Linked DNA regions of Homo sapiens. The protein of the gene in region 3 interacts with the protein of the main gene of each other region in a biochemical or structural test. Each region holds a gene or a part of one and is shown on either strand. Other genes may lie near its edges.

The links.
Region 1: the proteins of ANGPT1 (region 3) and FBLN7 form a complex in vitro, tested with the Homo sapiens proteins (one study listed by BioGRID).
Region 2: the proteins of ANGPT1 (region 3) and TIE1 interact in a biophysical measurement, tested with the Homo sapiens proteins (2 studies listed by BioGRID and IntAct, with this or other methods).

What each region holds. Positions count from the first base shown.
Region 1 is NC_000002.12:112,132,578-112,141,384, forward strand, and holds the start of FBLN7 (fibulin-7 isoform 1 precursor), read left to right. Parts: upstream 1-5,807; 5' UTR 5,808-6,078; coding exon 6,079-6,153; intron 6,154-8,807. UniProt on the Homo sapiens protein: An adhesion molecule that interacts with extracellular matrix molecules in developing teeth and may play important roles in differentiation and maintenance of odontoblasts as well as in dentin formation.
Region 2 is NC_000001.11:43,310,147-43,317,981, forward strand, and holds part of TIE1 (tyrosine-protein kinase receptor Tie-1 isoform 1 precursor), read left to right. Parts: intron 1-1,524; coding exon 1,525-1,683; intron 1,684-1,847; coding exon 1,848-1,985; intron 1,986-2,158; coding exon 2,159-2,455; intron 2,456-2,988; coding exon 2,989-3,279; intron 3,280-3,631; coding exon 3,632-3,822; intron 3,823-4,236; coding exon of another isoform or gene 4,237-4,320; exon of another isoform or gene 4,321-5,153; intron 5,154-7,052; coding exon 7,053-7,263; intron 7,264-7,417; coding exon 7,418-7,528; intron 7,529-7,735; coding exon 7,736-7,835. UniProt on the Homo sapiens protein: Transmembrane tyrosine-protein kinase that may modulate TEK/TIE2 activity and contribute to the regulation of angiogenesis.
Region 3 is NC_000008.11:107,277,219-107,285,889, reverse strand, and holds part of ANGPT1 (angiopoietin-1 isoform 1 precursor), read left to right. Parts: intron 1-1,041; coding exon 1,042-1,208; intron 1,209-8,671. UniProt on the Homo sapiens protein: Binds and activates TEK/TIE2 receptor by inducing its dimerization and tyrosine phosphorylation.

The sequences.
Region 1 (8,807 bases), on a different chromosome or scaffold from region 3:
GCATGCATTTTATATGCAAACCAAATAACCCCAAGTTCATACTCCTGCTTGTTTCCTTTTATCTGCTACGATATCCTTTTGCCCTAAACACCGCAAAGCTGGGTGCTGGACAACTAGGGACTACCCCTAGAGCCTAGAGCCCATCCAAACTCTTCAAACTATCCAATCCTAAACCTGCTTAGCTTGCTTACCTTGTTTCAATTGTTCCTTCCTGCAAAAACCACAATAAAGTCACTTGTCCACAGTTCCTCTCTCTCTCTCTCTCTTTCTCTCTTTTCCTCTCTCTCTGCCTGCTCATCTCACCTGGGCATTTTCCTGTGTGATCCTGCATGACATACCATCCCTCTTGTTCTTAGGAGACTGTGAGTATAATAAAAACTTCTTTCTTCATGGAAATTATTTTCATGTCTATGTATCTTACCACATCTGATTAAAACAAATCCTAGGTGCTATTGAAACAAATAAAGATATGAGCAGAAACCAATGAAATTTTAAACAAACACTTGAGAAAATTAACAAAGCAAAAAGTTGTCTCTTTGAGAAGAAAAACAAAATTTATAAATGTTTAGCTATAATAATTAAGAAGAAAGGGAAAGAGCACAAATCATCAATATTAGGAACAAAAGAAGGGCTACCACTACAGATCCTACAGCCATTAAAAAGATAAGTGAATAATACCATTTTATGCCACTACATTTGGCAAATTAGATAAAATTAAAGAATTCCTTGAAAACTATAATGTATAACTGACATAAGGTGAAATAAAATATTAAATTATACACACATTTATTTAAAGATAATTTTAGACTTAAAAGTTGCAAAATTAGCACTTACACCTTTTATCCAGGTTTTCTTTTTGCTTAGCATTTACTCAATTTCAGTTTGATCTTGGGCAACCTACTGAAGCATTCTAAGCCTCAGTTTCACAATCTGTAAAATGAGATTAATAATGGGACCCATTTCACTGGGTTGTCATGAGAACAAATGAGAGCATTTGTGACTGGTTTACAGTAGGTGCTCAAGACATGTTTGTTTCCTTCTTATGTTGTCCCTGTATGAAGGACCATCAGTATAAGCAATGTCCCTTTAACTGAGCACTTACTTTATGCTCAGCATTGTGTTAGGCACTTTATTATTTTGAAATCTCATAATCTCTTTGATAAATACTTGTATTCTCATATATAAATCAAGAAGCTGAGGCCTGTAAAGATTAAGAGGTTACAAGTTCACACTGGCAGCAAGAAGGGGGTAAGATTTGGCCGAGGCACGTCTGACTTCAAAGGCTGTGTGTGCCTGACTGCATCCACCATCTCTGCTGCTTCCAAAGGCATGTGGAATGGCATTCGTGGATGTTCAATGTCTTGCTCCTTTTGGCAGATGTTAACTGGTGTTTGGTCTTTAATCACAGCACAGTGAAATCTGCTTTTCTACAGGCTTTCATCTTGTAAAATTGGAAATGCTTTTCTAGGGGGAACGGTTTCTACTGGCAGTCCTGATATCATACATAAGTAGACAGTCTCTTCACCTTTCAGCACAGGACTGCACAGTTCTGTTGGCTAAAGCTCTAGATATAATGTGAGAATGTAGTGCCTGGTACAGGGCCATGCCCGGAGTTGGCACTTGATAGATATTTTTGTAGTGAATGAATTGGATGAAGTCACTGCACCTCTGCTAGACCGTTCTCCCTACACGGTTTCTACCCTATTATCCTGTCAGGCTAACATGCTGGACTTTGTTCCTGGGACCTCTGTAGGTGCTTCGTAGGGGTTGATGACATTTAGAACCACAGAGAAATGTGGGGTAAAGGATGAAAAGGGAGAGAAGCAGCTGCAAATGAGCTGACAGTAAGACTCAGCCATAGCTGAATCAGTAAGTCCATGAACCCAAAATGGTATGCAACATGGTATGGGGCACCACTGGGGACCCAGAGGAGCCCCCAGGACAGCTCTGGAAGGATAATTTCAGACTGGATCTTGCTTCTGCTAGCATCTGTTTATTTATTTAATTTATTTTTGTCTTTCTGAGACAGAGTCTCACTCTGTCGCCCAGGCTAGAGTGCAGTAGCAATCTTGGCTCACTGCAAGCTCTGCCTCCCGGGTTCATGCCATTCTCCTGCCTCAGCCTCCCGAGTAGCTGGGACTACAGGTGCCCACCACCATGCCCAGCTAATTTGTTGTATTTTTAGTACAGATGGGGTTTCACCATAATAGCTAGGATGGTCTCGATCTCCTGACCTCGCAATCCGCCCACCTCAGCCTCCCAAATGCTGGGATTATAGGTGTGAGCCACCACACCCAGCTTTTTTTTTTCTTTTTTTTTTAGATGGAGTCTCACTCTGTTGCCCAGGCCAGAGTGCAGTGGCACAATCTTAGGTCATTGCAACCTCCGCCTCCTATGTTCAAGTGAGTCTCCTGCCTCAGCCTCCCAGGTAGCTGGGATTACAGGTGCCTGCTACCACACTCGGCTAATTTTTGTACTTTTAGTAGAGACAGGGTTTCATCATCTTGGCCAGGCTGGTCTCAAACTCCTGACCTCAAGTGATCCGCCTGTTTCAGCTCCCAAAGTGCTGAGATTACAGGCATGAACCACCGCACCTGGCCTCTGTTGGGGTCTTAAAGACAAATTTCTGCAACAAATCTTCCCATTTTGTGTTGCATGCCTATGTTACACAGAGAACCTGAATGTATCAGAGCACTAATCCAAGGAGATGGCAACTGATCTTACCAAAAGATGTTTAAAATACTTTCTGTAGACATGTTGAACCCCACCAAACCAATCCCCCGACACTCAGGAATATTCTCTTGAAAACTAAATAGAGGGGAAATAGAGGAATAAACTAGCTGATAAGGGCCAGGCATGGTGGCTCATGGCTGTAATCCCAGCACTTTGGGAGGCTGAGACGGGTGGATCACGAGGTCAGGAGTTCAAGACCAGCCTGGCCAAGATGGTGAAACCCCGTCTCTACTAAAAATACAAAAATCAGCTGGGCATGGTGGCAGGTGCCTGTAATCCCAGCTACTTGAGAGGCTGAGGCAGGAGAATAGATTGCCTCTGTGAGGCAGCAGAGGTTACAGTGAGCTGAGATCATGCCACTGCACTCCAGCCTGGGCAATAGAGTGAGACTGTCTCAAAAAAAAAAAAAAAAAAGGCTGATAGGCCCATTGTATTCAGTTAAAGGTGAGGGTTGGGGGCTTAAAGGTAGAGCACCCAGCTGATTTTCATGGGCTGTCTGCTTGTAGACAGCCTTGGTAGGTTCTGGACTTGATAGGCTCTGCCTTGATTACTGCAGATCCAGGGCAGCTGAGGACAAAGACAGAGAAAGGACAGTGCTGCTGGGGCAGTCAGATCTTAGAAGGTTCATTCAGACCAGATGCCAGAACACTTAGAGGGAAGGCAGCCATAGGGAAAGGGTTACAAATATAAATAATTACATAGGAAAAAAAATCCTGTTGAAACTTAGAAATATTTGAAAAGTAAAAACAAAAGCAAAAACCCAAGAAAACAAAAAACAACAACAACAAAAAAACAGAAAACCCCCCATTACTGTAAATAAAATTCCTGAAATGCTATGATCATGTATTTAATATAAGCAACATAGTAGCCCTAAAATGAGAGGTGGGATAAAGTCAAAGGTAGTCTGTCCTAGAAACAGCACCGCTCTGGGAGGGGGATCTTGAGACCAGAGTTTGCATTCCTTGGGCAAGTCAGTCAACCATGCCCCGATTCAGCTTCTTCATCTGTGAAATCAAGAATCTCTTCCAGCTTTATGACTCCACAGAAAGGGCAGGAGAAGAGAAAAGAAGGCTTGCTTACATCTGCCCGATGTCTGGTTACCAGCGCATAGCCAGAACAAGGCTGAGAGCCAGAACAGCTGGCCTTCCAGAGAAGGTCGCCATGTAAACACAAGGTGGGATAGGACACAAAATATTAATAAATGCAGCCACACTGACCAGGAGGAAGCTTTTCAAGGATAGGGCAGAGGACAGAGAGACAGAGAGGGAGCAGGGCACTGGCTTTTGGTACAGACAGCAAACACATGAGAGATCGAGGCAGAAAACCACCATCTCCACAGGCTGCCCTGGATCGGGCCATGCTGTCCCGTCCTCTCCACCTGGATAGGGAGAAGCAGGGGTATGACCATGTCTCTCTTCAGGATGTTCAACCAGGAATGCAAAATAAAATTACATGGATCCCTTGCAGGCTGCAGTGGCTCACACCTATAATCCCAGCACTTTGGGAGGCTGAGGCGGGTGGGTCATTTGAGGTCAGGAGTTCAAGACAAGCCTGGCCAACATGGTGAAAACCTGTCTCTACTAAAAATACAAAAATTAGCTAGGCGTGGTGGTGCATGCCTGTAGCCCCAGCTGCTTGGGAGGCTGAGGCAGGAGAATTACTTGAACCAGGGAGGCAAGGCTGCAGTGAGCTGAGATCAGGCCACTGCACTCCAGCCTAGGCAACAGAGCAAGACGCCGTCTCAAAGAAAAAAAAGATTTACATGGGTCCCGTTCCACCTCCTTTGCATGGGAAGGTTGGGGGAGCAGCACTGTAGGATTTCCTGGGCAACCAATGCCCAGGAGGCCAGCCTAAACCATGTCCCCTGCTTTTTGGGGCACTGGCTAGGTTCTGAATGTTGGTGTCTCCCCTAAATTTATATGTTGGAAACCTCATTCCCAAGATGATGGCATTAGGAGGTGGGACCTTTGGGAGGTGACTAGGTCATGAGTGCAGAGCCCTCAAAATTGGGATTAGTGCCCTCAGAAAAGAGGCCCCAGAGAGCTGCCTTTCCCCTGTGAGGACACGGGAACCAGAACTCTGGCCCTCGCCAAACACCTAATCTATTGACACCTTGATCTTGGACCTCCCAGTCTCCAGAACTGTGAGAAACACGTTCTATTGTTTATAAGCCACTCAGTTTATGGTATTTTGCTATAGCAGTTTGAAGGGACTAAGCCAGGACTCCAGCTTTCCTTTCTGGCCTCTGCTGGGAAACAGCTCCTGCTCTGTGGTCACAGTCTTGTGGGCTCCCCGTTCCCTGAGCTCTGAGTGGGCTCAACAAAGTGAAATGTGGAAGAGGAAAAAGAGATCTGGGGCTTGACCAGACTTGTGTGTCCCAGGACATCTGCAGTGACTGCCTTCAGAAAACCTTCCAGGAAGAACGTCAGTCATGCCTTCCGGGAGCTCAGGTCTGAGGCATCTGGTTGTACCACAGCCCTGATGGCAGGGGACTTCAGACTGCTCATGCCGGCCTGGCACTTCCTGATTCGACTTCAGCAAGGCAGGCAATGTTCTAGAACCTGACCTCCGATTTAAACTGAGTTTCTCCTTCCCTTGAGCAAGGAGGACAGTGAATCAGAAGGACGTAGATCCCCTCACTGTATCACTGTGTGTGTATCTACTCACTGTGCGTGCGTGTTCTCACGGCCCCATTGCATTATTTAAAGGGACACTAGTTTATTCGGATGGAGAGCTCAGTCCACCCCACGTCAAGCTTATGAAGCCCATTTCCTGGCCCCCTTCTAGGAATGTCGGGAGGAGGGTGTCGCGTGGGCTTTGAAGTAGGACAGACCTGGGTTTGGGTTTCTGTTCTGCCACTTGTCCTTGGTGACTGAGCCTCAGTCTACTTGGTTGGGAAATAGGACGGTCGGGAGTGAACCCGCCCAGGGTGGGCTTCCAGTCACCCGCACATATGCGGGGCACTGGCCGCCCATCCCTGCCAGGCCCCGAGGATGCCCGCGCTCGTCCTCGGCGTCGCGGGTTGGGCGCGCTCCCGGGCGCATTCCCGGCCGGGCAGCCCCTCCTCCCTCGTCCTTAGCCCAGGGGCCGGCGCCTCCCCGCCTCGCGCGGACTGTCTCGTGCGGGCAGCTGCGGGCGCACCTGGACCCTCGCAAGGCCCGGGCGGCGCCGATCCCCGCGGGACGCGCTGCGCTCGGGGCCTCCCGCCTCCCCCCCTGCCCCAGCCGCCCCCCGGCCGCGCGGCGCCCCGCACCCTGCAGGGACGGCTGCCGCATCGCTGGGACAAACTCGGCAGCGGAGGCAAAGTTATTTCCCCTCCCAGGCAGCGGGATTCCGACTGGCAAGATGGTGCCCAGCTCTCCGCGCGCGCTCTTCCTTCTGCTCCTGATCCTCGCCTGCCCCGAGCCGCGGGCTTCCCAGGTCAGTGTCCCTCCCGCCTCTCTCCAGGCCAGTGTCCCTCCCGCCTCTCTCCAGGCCAGTGTCCCTCCCGCCTCTCTCCAGGCCAGCGTCCCTCCCGCCTCTCTCCCCTGTCCCTCCCGCCTCTCTCCCCTGTCCCTCCCGCCTCTCTCCAGGTCAGTGTCCCTCCCGCCTCTGTCCCCTGTCCCGCGCGCCTCTCTCCACGCCAGTGTCCCTCCCGCCTCTCTCCAGGCCAGCGTCCCTCCCGCCTCTCTCCAGGCCAGCGTCCCTCCCGCCTCTCTCCAGGTCAGCGTCCCTCCCGCCTCTCTCCAGGCCAGCGTCCCTCCCGCCTCTCTCCAGGTCAGCGTCCCTCCCGCCTCTCTCCAGGCCAGTGTCCCTCCCGCCTCTCTCCAGGCCAGCCAGTGTCCCTCCCGCCTCTCTCCACGCCAGTGTCCCTCCCGCCTCTCTCCAGGCCAGTGTCCCTCCCGCCTCTCTCCAGGCCAGTGTCCTTCACGCCTCTCTCCAGGTCAGTGTCCCTCCCGCCTCTCTCCAGGCCAGCGTCCCTCCCGCCTCTCTCCAGGTCAGCGTCCCTCCCGCCTCTCTCCAGGCCAGCGTCCCTCCCGCCTCTCTCCACGCCAGTGTCCCTCCCGCCTCTCTCCAGGTCAGTGTCCCTCCCGCCTCTCTCCAGGCCAGTGTCCCTCCCGCCTCTCTCCAGGCCAGTGTCCCTCACGCCTCTCTCCAGGTCAGTGTCCCTCCCGCCTCTCTCCAGGCTAGTGTCCCTCCCGCCTCTCTCCAGGCCAGCGTCCCTCCCGCCTCTCTCCAGGTCAGCGTCCCTCCCGCCTCTCTCCAGGCCAGCGTCCCTCCCGCCTCTCTCCACGCCAGTGTCCCTCCCGCCTCTCTCCAGGCTAGTGTCCCTCCCGCCTCTCTCCAGGCCAGCGTCCCTCCCGCCTCTCTCCAGGTCAGCGTCCCTCCCGCCTCTCTCCAGGCCAGCGTCCCTCCCGCCTCTCTCCACGCCAGTGTCCCTCCCGCCTCTCTCCAGGTCAGTGTCCCTCCCGCCTCTCTCCACGCCAGTGTCCCTCCCGCCTCTCTCCAGGCCAGTGTCCCTCCCGCCTCTCTCCAGGCCAGTGTCCCTCCCGCCTCTCTCCACGCCAGTGTCCCTCCCGCCTCTCTCCAGGCCAGTGTCCCTCCCGCCTCTCTCCCCTGTCCCGCGCGCCTCTCTCCATGCCAGTGTCCCTCCCGCCTCTCTCCACGCCAGTGTCCCTCCCGCCTCTCTCCAGGCCAGCGTCCCTCCCGCCTCTCTCCAGGTCAGCGTCCCTCCCGCCTCTCTCCAGGCCAGCGTCCCTCCCGCCTCTCTCCACGCCAGCGTCCCTCCCGCCTCTCTCCACGCCAGCGTCCCTCCCGCCTCTCTCCACGCCAGTGTCCCTCCCGCCTCTCTCCACGCCAGTGTCCCTCCCGCCTCTCTCCAGGCCAGCGTCCCTCCCGCCTCTCTCCAGGCCAGTGTCCCTCCCGCCTCTCTCCCCTGTCCCGCGCGCCTCTCTCCACGCCAGTGTCCCTCCCGCCTCTCTCCAGGTCAGTGTCCCTCCCGCCTCTCTCCAGGTCAGTGTCCCTCCTGCCTCTCTCCAGGCCAGCATCCCTCCTTCCTCTCTCCCCTGTCCCGCGCGCAGGGGAGGCAGCACCAAGGCTGGGGGACCCGGGCTTGCCACTTTCCACTCGGATGCCTGGGTTGAGAGCTCGGAGCGATGCCTGGGCTGGGGTTCAGTTTTCAGAGAGAGGTGCAGGGTCCCCCACCTGTCACCTCAGATGCATCGCTGGCCGGGCCCCTGGGAGGACCCGGGCTGGGCTGCGAAAGCGTCGGTCCATTGTGGGCGAGGACTCCACGTGAGCACCGCCGGGAGGAAGAAGATTTCTCAGGGAGCTATGAGACATTGGTCTTTCCTGGGTCTCCATGAGAGCTCCAGGTCACCTAATTAGCTTAGAGAACGTCCCCGCCCTCCAAACTCCGACATTTAAATTTCCAACCGAAGTATCAGAACACTCACGGGACTTTCTCAGCAGTTTGTGGCATTTCCCAGGCAGAGGTGGCCCGGGAGGTTTCCGAAGCGGTCCCTTCCCGAGCCGGCGAGGCCCTGGATGTGCGACTACATTTTCTTAAACACATATACAGGCGGCTTGCTGTTTAATTTTTCTGTTCTTGCCGTTGGCATTTGTTCGAATCTCACCGGATTTATTTGTTTAATACTTGACCAGATTCGCTTTTATGTTAACCATTAGCAACTGATTTTTAAAATTAAGGCGAGAACTTGAATTGCCGAGTCCGGGACCCACATCCAGCAGAGTAGCCCTGGCAAGCCAGGGTGAGGGGCCCGGCCATGGACTGCCGACCCCGCTACCTGCACAATACCAACAGCGGTGGGCAGCGGAGAGCCTGCACACGGAGTGCCTGGTGCGCCTCAGGCTCCCTGCAGGGCATCTTCCAGTCACTTCATTCCCGGAGCTACCCTGTGAAGTGGGGACTGTTACCCCCATTTTGCAGATGATGAAAGTGAGGCCCAGGGAGGATGAGATGTATTCAAGGTCACACAACCAGAAATGAGCGGAATAAACCCAGTCTCTCTTGTTGGGCTCCAAGATTTCTTCCTTGCCTGCAGACACTTGCCCATACTCCCTGGCCAGAGACT
Region 2 (7,835 bases), on a different chromosome or scaffold from region 3:
ACCCCATGTAAGCCCCCTCTCTCACCTTCTGCTTTCTCGTTGCCACACTCTGCCTCCCAGGTCCTCGCCATCTCCCTATCCCGTGACTATGCATGACTCTCTGCCATCAAGCCTCACCTTCCGCCTTTCTCTTCTCACTGTGCCCAGGCTTAGGAGCCAGACAACCTGGGCTTGAATCCTCTCTCCACAAATTCCTTGCCCCATCACCTTAAGGAAACTACTTAACCTCTCTTACTTTGTTTCTCTCTTTGTGAAATGGGGATAGCTAGCACTTGATGGGGTTGTTACAAAGATTAAATTTGATGATGTATTTAAGCATTTAGCACAGTGCCCGATACAGGGTGTGTGCTCAATGTATGTCGATAATTATTGTTATTATTTAAAATGTCACCTAGTCCCTAGATTTTGATAGTTCTCTGGCAGCTCTCACATATGATCTGCAGCCAGGACCCCTCTTCTGACTCCAGATCATTTGGTGGGGACTCCATGAAGTGGGGCATCTACTCTGGAAGTCTGGTTTTGAAGTTGGTGTGGAAAGTAGCTGCTGTATGATTCGGAGGCCCATTTTATATCCAGCCACTTCCTGGACATCTAATCCCCTGCGTGAGCCAAAGGCACCAAGGGCTTCTCTGCACCCAAAATGGACCTTCATCTCCCCGCAAATCAGCACTGCCCTCCTGACATGCTCATTGCTGCCTGACACTCCCTCAGCTTACAGCGCGGCATCCTTTTCCTCCCTCGCTCCCTCCCTCTTTCCTTCCTTCCTTTCCTCTCAAAAAGCCAATCTGGTAAACATTTGTAAGAGTCAAGGGAACCTGTTAAAAGCACTAATGCAATAATCTGGAGAGAAAAAGTTGAGGCCAGAATAGGAGCAGCGATCATGGGGTGAGGAAGTGGGGCAGGAACAAGAAGGCTGTTTTGGAGTAGAATGGATAGATCTGAGGCGGCCTGCGCAGACAGACCTAGTTCAACACATGGCTGTATCTCCTTCTAGTTGTGTGTCCTTAGGCAAGTTATTCGGTGTCTCTGAGTCTCAGTGTTTTCATAATGCAGGGTAATGTGCCCTGACAGAAAGGTGGCTGTGAGAATTAGAGGTCATGCTATGAAGCGTGTGGCGGGGAGCAGGTGCTTCAGTGCCAGTGCCATTTTTTTTTTTTAATAAGAGAGTGGTGAATGAGGGCAGGGGCAGAGAGCAGGATGATGCCCAGGTAGTCTCCCTGACCTGGGTTTCGGCCCCTTCTGTCTACCCCCACACTGCATGGGAAGAGTGCACCCCCAAACCATGTCTGGCCATGTCACTTCCTCATCTACCATCTTTTGGGACACCCTCATGCCTTTATTGCTTAATCCTTGTGCCCCAAGCTACCCAGGGGCCTGAACTCTGTCCTCCCTGGGCCCTGGCCACTATGGTCATCTGTTGAACTTGGTGTCCCTCAAGCCCAGAGGGTCCCCAGCTTGAAACAAAGATGCAGAAGTGGACTGGATAGGCTGTGTGCCCATGCCTTACCCTGAGTCTCCTGGCAGTGCCCCCCGTGCCCCTGGCTGCACCTCGGCTCCTGACCAAGCAGAGCCGCCAGCTTGTGGTCTCCCCGCTGGTCTCGTTCTCTGGGGATGGACCCATCTCCACTGTCCGCCTGCACTACCGGCCCCAGGACAGTACCATGGACTGGTCGACCATTGTGGGTGAGTAGGGAGAGAGCTGGGGCAGGACAGAGGTGTTGGGTAATAGTGAAGGGATACAGTGAGCAGGAGAGGGAGGGCAAATGGTGCGAGGGGGCTGAAGGGAGCATGGCAGCTTCTAGAAGAGGTGGGGGCTGAATAATGTGTGCTTTACACCCCACGCCCAGTGGACCCCAGTGAGAACGTGACGTTAATGAACCTGAGGCCAAAGACAGGATACAGTGTTCGTGTGCAGCTGAGCCGGCCAGGGGAAGGAGGAGAGGGGGCCTGGGGGCCTCCCACCCTCATGACCACAGACTGTCCTGGTGAGAGGCCAAGAGTCATCCCTTCCTGTCCCCCCAAGGGTTACTTTCCCGTCGACCCCAGGGACCCCTGCCTTTCCCACTGGAGGTTGTTCTTCCTTGTTCACTGGGGATCATTGTCCTGTCCAGCCCCAAGTACCTACTGGACAGTTCTGACCCCTGACCTCTGGCCCCAGAGCCTTTGTTGCAGCCGTGGTTGGAGGGCTGGCATGTGGAAGGCACTGACCGGCTGCGAGTGAGCTGGTCCTTGCCCTTGGTGCCCGGGCCACTGGTGGGCGACGGTTTCCTGCTGCGCCTGTGGGACGGGACACGGGGGCAGGAGCGGCGGGAGAACGTCTCATCCCCCCAGGCCCGCACTGCCCTCCTGACGGGACTCACGCCTGGCACCCACTACCAGCTGGATGTGCAGCTCTACCACTGCACCCTCCTGGGCCCGGCCTCGCCCCCTGCACACGTGCTTCTGCCCCCCAGTGGTATGTGCAAGGCGCAAGGATAGCTGGGGGTTGGGGGAGGACGTGGGACACAGGGACACATGAGACCTAGGAGACACGGGAGGCTGTAGGAGATTAATGGACATGGAGAGGACACAGGACACACATAGGGTATTAGGCAGACGTGACCCCAGCGGGGACATGGGACTTGGGGAAGATCCAGGGTACCAGGAGGACACAGATCACCAGGAGCATGTGGGGAGAGCATGGGGAGGTCAGGGTTCATGGCGAGAACCAGGGTCATGGGAGGGCATGAGACTTGCGGAACACAGGGCATGGGCGGATGTGGAGAGGACTTGGGATACAAGAAGTACAAGGAGAAGCAGAAGCTTGAGGGTGAAAGTGGCCTGGGGGAATGGAGAGGAATTCAGTCTGGTGGGGAGGAGGAAGTTGGCAGGGTGGCCCCTGTGCTTGGACCCACAGAGGAGGGAGCACAGCTAGAGCAGATGTGTCCAGCCCCACAGCTACATAGCCCGGTCCTATCTGAGCCTTGCCTTCCCCCACCATCTCCCCAGGGCCTCCAGCCCCCCGACACCTCCACGCCCAGGCCCTCTCAGACTCCGAGATCCAGCTGACATGGAAGCACCCGGAGGCTCTGCCTGGGCCAATATCCAAGTACGTTGTGGAGGTGCAGGTGGCTGGGGGTGCAGGAGACCCACTGTGGATAGACGTGGACAGGCCTGAGGAGACAAGCACCATCATCCGTGGCCTCAACGCCAGCACGCGCTACCTCTTCCGCATGCGGGCCAGCATTCAGGGGCTCGGGGACTGGAGCAACACAGTAGAAGAGTCCACCCTGGGCAACGGTGAGAGGGCAGGGCCCACAGGACCCCCCGGGCTCTGAGCGGGGAGAGCTCAGCACGCTCTCCTTCCACATCACCCCCTACTGTGGAGCTAGGGCATCCCAGGCCCCTCCTGACAAAGAGTCAGCCCCAGTCCTGGGGACTCAGCCTTCCATTCTCATGATCCACTGTCCCAGGGCTGGGAAAATCATGTCGCCCCTCTGACACCCCTCATCCCTTCCTTCATGTGGCCCAAGTGATTTCCTGACAGTCCTGGCACTGGGATCTTTCACCTCTCCCTCTGTGTAACCCCATGGTGGCCTCTGGGTTCCCTGACCCAGGTGTCCCCACAATCTGCCCCTCTCACTGTGTCCAGGGCTGCAGGCTGAGGGCCCAGTCCAAGAGAGCCGGGCAGCTGAAGAGGGCCTGGATCAGCAGCTGATCCTGGCGGTGGTGGGCTCCGTGTCTGCCACCTGCCTCACCATCCTGGCTGCCCTTTTAACCCTGGTGTGCATCCGCAGAAGCTGCCTGCATCGGAGACGCACCTTCACCTACCAGTCAGGCTCGGTCAGTGACCCGCCCCGCCCCTGGGTGCATGCTTGCAGCCCGTGTTTATGTTTCTACCTGTGTACACACAATACCTTGTACACCTTGTGTGTGTGTGTGTGTGTGTGTTTATGTTGCAGGTATAAGATTACACTCAACAATGTTCAAGGGTACAAAATATAATTTTCTTTATTTCTCTAAAACTGAATTCAGCTCATGAGCCCATTTATATTAGTGGTGAAATATTTAATATTCCCATTTCAAAAGAATTCCGTGATGACCATATTTCACAATGGACATTCCAGTTTTGGGCTCCGTCAATTGGAGATTTTCCTCTCCCCTCTTTTATTTCTCCCTAGCGGTTATCTAGGCCTAGATAGCAAGGTGATCAAATGGAAGGGCACTTGGGGTTCATGCTGGCTTTTGTCCTTGCAGGCCTTCCTGGGCTCGGGAGCCAGCCTCTGTCTGCACACATCTTTGGCTGATGTTCTTAGCCCTGCTGTGGCCACCTGCCAGTAGGCCAGTCATGCTGTGAGCTCCTCATCCTAACCTTCATTCTTGCAAATCCCAGGGCCTCCTTTTGGAGACTTAAGAAAGGGGCTGGGCACAGTGACTTGCACCTGTAATCCTAGCATTTTGGGAGGCTGAGGCGGGTGGATCGCCTGAGGTCAGGAGTTTGAGACCAGCCTGGCCAACATGGTGAAACCTTGTCTCTACTAAAAATACAAAAATTAGCCAGGCGTGGTGGTGCATGCCTGTAATCCCAGCTACTCGGGAGGCTGAGGCAGGAGAATTGCTTAAACCCGGGAGGCGGAGGTTGCAGTGAGCCGAGATGTTGCCACTGCACTCCAGCCTGGGCAATAGAGCAAGACCCTGTCTCAAAAAATTAAAAAAGAAAAAGAAACAGAACTAAAGAACTGTAGGGGCTTCCTTATACCTTATGGAAGGAGGCATATTCTGTGGCCCTCAGACCGCTGCCACAACCCCTTCCCACTTAGACAACTGTTTCTACCACTCCAGAATTGTGCTGGCCTGCTCCTTGAAAGAGGAAGCACAAACCTCCACTCCTCCTGGCTTCCCTGTAATCCTGCCCGAGTTGTCTGTCCTCCTGTAGCCCACACCCTTCTGTCCCTCAGGCCCCTGCTTAGAGGTGGGGTGTGGGAGGGCACCCACTGTCACTTTATCCTGTCACATTCTAGCCGCCCATCCGCAGGTCCTGTCTCCTCTGAGGGCTTCTTCATTGTCGTCACTTAGGATCTGAACTCTGTCCTTGGCCTTCCAGGCCTGGACTCTTGATATTTAGAGCTAAGCTTTGGCATTTCAAATAAAAAATAAAAAAAGAAAGAAAACCCTCTTCTCTCTCAAGGGCTGATCCTTGTGATAGAAAGCCTAGTGTCTCTGCTATGCCTTTGAAAAATCCATTCAGAGGCCGGGCGTGGTGGCTCATGCCTGTAATCCCAGCACTTTGGGAGGCTGAGGCGGGTGGATCATGAGGTCAGGAGTTCAAGACCAGCCTGCCCAGTTGGTGAAACCCCATCTCTACTAAAGCTACAAAAATTAGCCAGGCACAGTGGCAGGAGCCTGTAATCCCAGCTACTAGGGAGGCTGAGGCAGGAGAACTGCTTGAACCCGGATGGCAGAGGTTGCAGTGAGCCAATATCACGCCACTGCACTCCAGCCTGGATGACAGAGTGAGTGAGACTCCATCTCAAAAAAAAAAATCCATTCAGAGATTCAATTGGCTTCTTTGTTCCAAGCTGTGTTGGCTCTTCCTCTGAGGTCAGTGCACACAGAAAGCCCTCACTGCTGTGGTGGGGGAGGGTAATGGGTACAGATGTCGAGGGCAGGAGGTGGGAAAGCAGTCCTTAACATACATGGTGTCATACTCTATATCAAGATATATCCCCCTAGCCTGGGCAACATGGCAAAACCCCATCTCTACAATAAAAGAAAATATGAAAATTAGATGGGCGTGGAGGTGTGCACCTGTGGTCCCAACTACTCGGGAGGCTGAGGTGGGAGGATTGCCTGTGCCCAAAAGCTCGAGGTAACAATGAGCTGAGATCGTGCCATTGCCCTTCCGCCTGGGCAACAGAGCGAGACCTTGTCTCAAAACAAACAAAAAGATATATCCCTGGTACATGTGCCTGCATATGGATAGGAAACGTGTGTGCACAAATGTGTGTGCTCCATGTATGAGTGCACACGTGCATCCCCTGTGAGTGCCACATGTTTAAATGCGTGTGTCCCAGATGCACGTGTCCCTATGCCTGTGCACCTTCAGGCCTGCATGTGTGTATGGACCTATACATGATGCACCTACATATGGTGCTGCCCAAGAACATCACGTGCATTTGCTATGTGCCGTCAGCACCAGTGCTTCTTGCAAATCCCTGGGCCCCAGGTCCTCAGCCCTTGCCCATCAAGCTGGACTTCAGTGCACTTAGGAAGCCCCACCAGAAGGTCTGTCTTAACCCTGCTTCCAGTTCTCATATTGGCAGTTTCTTTGGTCCTGTTCACTTATTTCCTTTTCCCACCATCAGCCCCACCCAGATGGCCTCCTCCTACTGAGTTAGGAAATTGGACATTCCTCTTTGTTATAGTCTTGCTATTTTCAGGTCCTGGCCTGATTTTAGAGCTATGGAGAAAAGCCAAGTGTGTGGACAGGGTAATCTCTGCTTCTGCTACTGTGGAGAAAACCCCTCCACTGGCTCCCAGCAGCTCAGGGCTGAGCATGTAGTAGGTGCTCAATAAATGTCCCCTGGCCTACTCCCTAAGGCTGGAATCTTCTCCAGAGCTTCCCTGGTGACCCCCAACAACAACAACAACAAAAAGCCTGGTTGTAGGATTAGCACAGTCATAGGAAGCTCATTCCGATCCTTTTCTGTTTTAAATGTTAGAAATATCCTCCTTCCATTGACTCACATTGTGGCTTCTAGCAACTTTACCCACAAGCCCTGGTTCTGCCTTCCAGAGTCCCGTACACTAGATCCCCTGGCTGCAGCCTCTGCATTTCTCTCCTTGGACATCTGTCCACCCAGCAGCCTACCTGTGGCTCTGTTACCTATGATTCTGTCTCAGTTATGTCCTCTGTCTGCCTGTCTGTCCCTGGCTGACCACCAGGGTGCCCTCCATCTGGGTCTCTGCCCACTTGTCTGACACTGAAACCTCCTCGTGTGCCTGTCTGTGCCTCCTTCCGCCCCCTTTGACTCTTGCGTGGACCGTCTGCCCTCTTGTCTCATCCTGTGAAGGGCGAGGAGACCATCCTGCAGTTCAGCTCAGGGACCTTGACACTTACCCGGCGGCCAAAACTGCAGCCCGAGCCCCTGAGCTACCCAGTGCTAGAGTGGGAGGACATCACCTTTGAGGACCTCATCGGGGAGGGGAACTTCGGCCAGGTCATCCGGGCCATGATCAAGAAGGACGGGCTGAAGATGAACGCAGCCATCAAAATGCTGAAAGGTCCACTGGGGCGACCCCTGGCCCAGCCCTGATGCTCTCCTTTGTCCCACAAATCCCAGGCCCCACCTGGCTTCCTCCAGCAATTGACCCCAGCCCTTGCCAGCCCTTTCTCCAGAGTTATTTCTGGCAAAATAATATTGGATTCTTTACACAGAGTATGCCTCTGAAAATGACCATCGTGACTTTGCGGGAGAACTGGAAGTTCTGTGCAAATTGGGGCATCACCCCAACATCATCAACCTCCTGGGGGCCTGTAAGAACCGAGGTGAGCCCCCAGCTCATCACCTACCCCTTCTTCCAAACCCCCATCCTCAGCCATCACCTCCACCACATGAGTAGCTTGCCAGGGGCTGCTGGTGACCTGTGCACCACCCTTGATCCTCCTTCATCCCTGTCTGTTACCATCGGGTGCCTGCTCCCACCCTAGGTTGCCTGTGTCTAAATCACCACTGTCTGTCTCTTTGCCTCTCAGGTTACTTGTATATCGCTATTGAATATGCCCCCTACGGGAACCTGCTAGATTTTCTGCGGAAAAGCCGGGTCCTAGAGACTGACCCAGCTTTTGCTCGAGA
Region 3 (8,671 bases):
AAATTCACAAATACAACACAGTTTCTATCATCAGGGAGCTCACAACATGGCCAGTGAAACAAATATGTAGATCAAGAATTACATTGAACTTCAAGCACTGCCAATGAGTATTTTCTGAGGCAATTGTGAATACTCCAAATCTAGAATGCCAGCAAGTTTCTAGGGGTTCTTTCTTTTCCTATCACTAACATCTCCAACATTAAGCGCTGGCTTTCTTTTGGGACCACTTTTTTCTCCCTACAAAGAAACTATTTTGAATACTTAACAACCTTGACTTCCCCCAAAGAGAACAATAAAGTCATGTTGACATTCAGAAGCCAAGCAGTCAGCTAGGTTCACTCAGGAGCACTTACAAATCAGCCTTCTGCCTCAAAATTCCAATGCCAGTGCAGCTTTGTAAATAATTACAGTCATGGATTTACAGGGTTGCTTATTAATATTTAAAAATAAGAAAGTTAAAGCTCCAAAAGTCATGGTTCTAGTAATCTATTAGTTTGGTGCAAAAGTAATTATGGTTTTTACCATTGAAAGTAATGGCAAAAACTGCAATTACTTTTGCACCAACCTAAATATGAAGTTATTGTTGAAACATAATTGCATTTGTGAATAATAATAGTAAAAATAATATTGTTAAATAACTTGTCTAATATCACTCTCATAGTGTTCATTGAAAAATCTTTAAACTCTATTCAAAATATTTTGTTAACTAGTAATTTAGAAACATTTTCAAAAGCAAACCTTGAATTGAGAATTGTTTTCCAGTTAAACCTATTAACTAGATTTATTTTATACAAAATGTCTCATCCACACAGATTTGAATAACAGAGGTTTTATTGTACTAAGTAAGAATTAGACAGAAGCTTTGATGAAGAGACACAGAATTATTGAAATGTCAATCACTGGAGAAAAAGTGTAAAATGTAAAAAACAAAAACCTTTACTTTTTAATAATTTTTAATTATTATTTAGAAAATAGTTAAATGCTGAACATGAAAAGAATTCCTCTCTAAAGTAACAACTGCATCTCTATATTGTTTCCCAGGGTTTTGGAAATCCCTCCGGTGAATATTGGCTGGGGAATGAGTTTATTTTTGCCATTACCAGTCAGAGGCAGTACATGCTAAGAATTGAGTTAATGGACTGGGAAGGGAACCGAGCCTATTCACAGTATGACAGATTCCACATAGGAAATGAAAAGCAAAACTATAGGTAAGTCATGCTACAGTGTAGTGTTCGACTACCTTTTACCTAGCCACTTAATAATTGTAGTGGGAAAATATGAAAAAAAGAAATGAAAATCATCCTTCAAAATGAAAATTCTTTTTTTTTTGTCTAGACCTATTACAAAGAGGTACAAAAAAGCCTGTAAAGACTTTTTCAAAGATTTAAATTTCAGTTTTCGTAGGTTGACTATCTTTGATATTGGCTTAAATTTTAGGGAATGGTGAATGAAGTCAAGCATACTGTTGTTCTGTGGTTATCATGCAGTTGCAGTGAATTCATATATATAAAACTGATAAGTTTCATACTCAAACTCATTGGCTTAAATAATCTCTTTATTCTAAAAAAAGATTTTCTGGTTCTACTTTTTTTGATGACCTTTCTTGAATTAGCATTTTTCAAATGATCTTGAAGATGACAAAAGTAAAATTTTTTTATGTTTGAATGATTTACATAAAAGAGAAGATGAGGCATGATTTAGAGGGTTTTCTTGGTAAATCTAAAAAGCAAAAATAAATTGTAATAATGGCATCAATATACATAATACATGATTGCAGATGTAAAAATAGATAAACTATACACTTAATGATACATGTTTCCAATTATCCTTTTTCAATGAGAAGCTCGTCTACTAGGGAAAAATAAACACACAAAAATATGGCTAAGGAAATAATGTGATGTGGTGGATTCATTGCACGAACACTTATTGTGTTACTTCTGTGTTCCTGGAATTCTACTGGGCGCTGGTCTTACAGACGTCAAAGTCAAGCTTTGTTACTAACTAGGTCACTAAAAACTGGCTGGCATTCCTTGGGAACAGGGAAGATATTTTAGTTACTCTTCTACTGCTACTCATTAATGCAATTCTTGATGCCTAGCAGGTCTTTAATTGTGTGTGCCTCAGTTTCATTCTTAGTAAATTAGAGTTGTAATGATTTTTAACTCTCAATATTGTGACTGCTCTACCTCTGTCTTGAAAATATGATTGTATGAATTAAAGGGTGGGCACATTGCTTCAAGTAATTGCAACAATAGCAACCCAACCCTTGCGTGTGTTTTGTTTCAACCTGTGTGGTTATCTCATAGTTCAACTGTTTCTGCTGCTTATTTGTCTTTTCAAGACAAACCTTTTTTTTTTAATTTTTTAAAAGTTTGAATTCTGCATATTTTCATAGGCACAACTCATTTCATTTTAATGGATTATGTATGGGGTTGGATCCTTGGAGACATAATAATCATTTTCTCGACAAATAGTAATGATGTCACCACAACAGAGAATGAGAAATAGATCTAAAAGAGTTGATAGTCTCATGGTGGGGGTGGAGGGGAAGCGAGGGTGTACTTAATGGCAGCTCAAGAAACCAAAGAAGAGACATTTATAAAATGCAATGGAGTGTAAGAAGAAATGTTTCCAAGGAGGTCAATATTTTGAAAGTTTTATAACAAGAAAACCACTGTTAAACATCAGGGATACTCTTATGTAAATGTTTTGACCTGAAACTTGAAACTATATGAAACTTGGCTAATGTCAGACAGCCTGACAATAGGACTAGCAAATAATTAGTCTAGTCTTTTCCTAGGCTCCTGAAGAATTTGCTTTGGTTCCTTTCCAAAATGTCTCTCAGTTTTTCATAGGTGGCTGCATGTGTGTGTGTGTGTGTGCATACACATGCATATGCATGTGTGTCAGGCTTGGAGGGTGTTGCGGGACAGAGTGTTGGGGCAGGGTTAGGAGGATTGTTGGCATCTGTGGTGCACTTCGGAGTGTATGATGTGTATGCCATTCTGCCATCTGCATGAGGAAGGAGTACTCACCTCCTCTTAGAGTGCCCCACTGCCCTTTTGAGCATTTCTCATTTCTTTGACATCTGTGTGATTTTGTATTCTCACCACACAGTAGGGATCTATGATCAAAAAGTAAGTCTTCCCTGCTAGGGTGATGCATACACTCTGATATCCCCATTTTTCTTTCTTGATAGAACTGTGAACCTTGAGAATCAAAATTATAAAGCCAGAAGAAATGTAACAATTTAATTTCAAACCTCTGGTTTTATGGGAAGGAAAGCTGAGGCTCATATATATATATATATATATATATATATATATATATATATATGGTTCATATATGTAATATATATATAATATAATATATGATATATAATATATATGAACTCTTCAAGCCTCACACACATGCATATGCATGTGTACACACGCACACACACACACACACATACACACATATATATACATATGAGCCTCATATATATAATTTTGCCCAAAAAGGGAGAAAGACTTAAATAAGGGATGTCTAACTCCTGCCTCATTCAATGTGGTTTCTGTTCTGTCATGCTGCTGACATGAAGTTAGTGGTTCTGGCCTCTTTCCTGCAGGGACCTAACAGAAAGTAGATGTGCAGTCATCATTTTCTCATGCAATTCAAGTATACGATTCACGTTGACATGAAATGGGAAATGAGAACTCATTAAAACATAATGCTTACTCTGGTGAAAGATTCATTAAAGTAAACACACTATAAGATGGTGTTATTCGCTTTTTCAAAGAAAAATGGAACAGAAGCCTGAAAACAGAAGCTAAGCCCTTGCAACTTTTCTCCCTGCCTGTATCATCACGTATGCCCAGTACTGCTTCTCTAGGCCCATTAATGCCTCCCGTGGCCTGCAGTTAGAACTCACATTGTCCATCACTGCCTCATGTGCTTTTTGTCCATTCATGTCTCGTCCCTCTGAATTGGCGTGTGTCTTTGTGATCAATTGTTTCAAGTATTAATACTAAGATTTGCACAGTATTCCATAACCTATGAAATGATTTTTAACACTACAAGCATATAAACCTCTTTTGGAGGTAGGTATTATTAGACACATTGTTTTTTTGAGACGGAGTCTCACTCTTATCGCCCAGGCTGGAGTGCAATGGCGCGATCTCGGCTCACTGCAACCTCCGCCTCACCGGTTCAAGCAATTCTCCCGCCTCAGCCTCTCTAGTAGCTGGGACTACAGGTGCCTGCCACCATGCCTGGCTAATTTTTTGTATTTTTAGTAGAGACGGAGTTTCACCGTGTTAGCCAGGATGGACTCGATCTCCTGATCTCGTGATCCGCACGCCTCAGCCTCCCAAAGTGCTGGGATTACAGGAGTGAGCCACTGCTCTGGGCCTAGACACATTTAAAAAATAAGAAAACTGAGGTTTTGGTCAGTTGACTTGGTCAAATTCAACTAAATTCCGACTGAAATATAAAACTATGAAATTCATACTAGGTTTTTGTTTTATATTTTTTGTTTTCTATAACTTTTCTCAAAAATTAAATTAAATTAAATTAAATTCAGAATTGTTTGAGGTTTTATTTTCTAAAACATATTCTATCATGGAAATTTTGTTTGAAAATTCTTGTAACAGGTGTGGTCCTAATGTTTAAACCTAACTGTGGTGTTGTTTTTTAAAAAAACATTTATCATGCTCTTGACATATTAATTAAAAGAAAGTGTTGTGAATGGATAGATGAGCTTATAAATGTGCATGTATTACACATATTTTTCTTTTATCCTCTAAGGAAACTCCAAATAATTTTCTCAGATAGAAAATAAAATCTGTAGAACCCAAGAGAATATAAATAAGAAAAAATAATAATGTAAGAGTGTCATGATAAGCATAGCATATGAACTAACATGTATCAATGTGAAATTATTTAATACTTCCTCTAGAGAGGTAGTATTATCCAGATCCTCATCATCTAACACCCAGGCAATTATAGAACCTTCCTGCCTCTTTAGTCTTCATACTCTCATATATATCTTCCATGCTGTTGTTGAGATGATTTTTCTAACAGACAACTTGGTCTTTCCCTCCTTCATATATTTCAACAGTGTTCAAATATCTGCAGGTAAAAGTCTACCACTAAGACTCTTCGTGACCTGGCCACTACCTAATTATGCACCTATTGCTGCCATACACTCTCCCTAACTTTACCTACCTGGATACCCTTCTCATTAACGGTTATGTTCTGGTAACTATTTGCGATTGCCCTAAATCCTCCATGCCTTTGTTTATGCTATATTCTTACTCACTCAACACATAAACTTAACTTTGTCACATGGATACATCTTAAATCTTTAAGATTCTCTCTTATTCCAAGTCTTCCCTGATACCTACTGTGGTAGATGTAACGTGTCAACCCATTGCCTCCTTCAATACTAAAGCGCTTCTTTCTTCCACTTCCGGGAAATGTTGACTGACAGGTTGCAGCTGAAGTCCCCTTTCCAGGCACTGTTTGTAGTTAAAGAAAAATTAGCCGGGCGTGGTAGCACATGCCTATAATCCCAGCTGCTCGGGACGCTGAGACAAGAGAATCACTTGAACCCCGGAGGTGGAGGTTGTAGTGAGCCGAGATTGCGCCATTACACTCCAGTCAGGGCGACAAGAGTGAAACGCCATCTCAAAAAAAAAAATAAAAAAAGAAAGAAAGTAACATCACCCAAGATTACTTCTTGCAAGATACATTGTATCTAATGACTGGTCAATATAAGAATATGAAGACCCTCTTGCCCCAATTTGGGGCAATTCTGAAGAGCCCCTCAGAATCCAAAATTCCACTTCAGATTAGTTGAAGTCTTCACCATGACAGCATGTGAGCCCTGAATCTCCCTTTGCTGAGTTCTGCATGCTTCACTCTGCCACGGATCCTGGGACCTCTCCCTTCTCAACCTCCCTACACTGATTTCCCAGAGAAATGCATCACCCTCATTCTTAGGCCAATTTGGATACTCTGTGCTCCCATTGACCCGTAGCACTCTGGATAACTATCCAGGATCCAAATCCTGTTATAAGTCATTAATGAGTGACTGTTAACTATCTTTAACTTGTGCTCTCTCTCTCCCCCCCCCTTCCTTTGAGTGTGTGTGTGTGTGTACACGTGTGTGTGTATGTGTGTGTGTTCTAAGCTTTTAAAGTGTAGAACCCATTTTGGAAAAATTCAAGATATGTAACTAATTTAGCCAAATTACTGACTAAGCTAGCTATATTTGAGGCACACATACTATACACCAGATGTCTTGTTTTCACAAGAGAAAACTGAGGCATAGTACTTTGCACAAGGTCACAGGCACTGATAACGATGAGTAGGAGTCCGATTTGAAATTTGGTCTTATAACTACCCACCATATGGGCATCCTCAAATAAAGAAGTTCATCAGTTAATTTCTAGAATTAAATAAACCCAAAACACATACTCTAAGATATAGTATATGTTTATTCTAACCCTACTTCTCTCTTTAATAATTTGAATGCCTTTGGACACATTACCTATCTTTCCAGTTCTCAATTTTCTATTCTTACAAGTTAAAGTATTTGTAAAGCACCTTGTAGCTCAAAAATTTTCTACAATAGAACTACCTTTACCTGTGCATCACTATTTTTATTACCTTTCAATTCTTTGATAAAAAATTAAATTTGATCTCTCTAATAAACACTTGAGAGTTTATTATCAGTTTAAAAAAACAAATACACAACCACCACTGCAACAATAAATGCTTTAAAAATATTTTAATAATAGCAGATTTATTGTAGGGTTGAGGAGATGCTATGTCCACTGGAAGGAGCTCTGGAGTCGGAATCAGGATGTGGAGGCTGAGAAGAAATCTGGCTCTACCACCTGGGAAACTGGCATGGTTGTATTTGTCAGTGTTCAGTCAGGGGAGCAGAGCCATGATGAGTCTTACGGAAATAAGGTTAAAACATATGCTTGAAATTTGGCATGGCAGACAAGCCAGAGCTTGTGAAAATCTAAGAAACCAAACACGTGTAGCCACCAAAGTGGAACCACAAAAGGGAAGATCTACAGAAATTTGTTGCCTTGCTGTAGTTCCATTAAATGAGGTTGTGCAGTCAAGCATCTTGTGGTGGGTCTGGAGCTGTTGCCAGCATCAGGAAGACAAGCTGGGTGCTAAGTGAAGAAATACACAATGTAGAAACTGTCAGGCATCTCTGCCCCTGGACTTCACCATATCTGATGACGTTCTCAGAGTCAGGCCACTGCTTCACTTTCGCCTTCCAAATCTCACACAAAATTCTCTTTTAGCCAACCCCAGCTTAGAACCTTACAATGAAGGGGATTCAGGGAAATGGAGTACCCAGATTAACCAAGTTGATATTACTTTTATGCCTCAGTTTTCTTATCTTTCAGTGGGAATAATATCCTCGAATCAAAAAGAGTGTACATATATACCTTGTATTTGGTAAACTTAAATATCATGCTAATACGAAAGCTGTTTAGAGACTGGGTACAGTGGTTCACACCTGTAATTCCACCACTTAGGGAGGCCAAAGTGGGAGGACTGCTTGAGGTCAGGAGTTTGACATCAGCCTGGGCAACATAGCGAGAACTTTGTCTCTATTAAAAATTAAAAAAACAAACATTCACTTGGCGTGGTGTTGCACACCCATTGTCCCAGCTACTTAGGAGGCTGAGGCAGAAGGATTGCTTGAGCCCAGGAGGTTGAGGTTGCAGTGAGCTGTGATTGCACTGCTGCATTCAAGCCTGGCTGACAAAACATGACCCTGTCTTTAAAAAAAAAAAAAAGAAAAGAAAAGAGCAAACAGACTTTTTAAATTAAATTTTTATCATGCCCAAGAAATATATTATTGAGTCAATAAACAATTTTTAATTATATATTCTATATCGAAATCACCACTATTGTCTCCAACAATGTCCTTGGCTGGTTGATAGTTGTTTATTTACTTGGATTCAGGATCCCATCCAGCTTCACTCATTGCATTTGCAGTCATGTCTCTTGAGTCGCCTTTTACCTGAAACAGTCTACCACTCATCTATCAATTACATTTTTCAAGACTTTGGGTCAGCTTTTCCCAGAACAGCTCTTTCTGGGCTTATCTGACTATTTCTTTCTGATTAGATTCAGATTAAAGCTTTCTTGAGAAGAATACTAAATAAATGATATTGTCTATTTCCCATTCTATCACATCCAAAGGCACAAAAGATTAATTTGTTCCATTATTGATTGGGCTAAGCTTAATCACTTGTTAAGGTTTTGTTTTTGGTTTTTTAATGGAATACCTATTCTCTCCAAAATTCTTACAAAGGATCATAATGTATGAAACACGTAAAGCTGATCTATTTTGAAATGGTTGTGGGAAGGTAGTATAATATTTCCTCTTGCTATTATCTCAAACATTAGTACAGCACAGTTTAAAAACCATTGTGTTATATTATTATAAATAAAAAAGTAGAATTTACCAGTTGGAAATAAATTTCACTGTACTATTTTTAAATGTTAAAAGAAAACTATATAAAAATTTTTCTGCCTTAATATTAAAAGGACACAATTTTAGTGAACATATTCCATTATAAAGTCATTTTGCAGGTAATTATTTTCAGATCTTGGGAACAGTTTGTTCCTTACAGTTCATTATTTTGTTGTC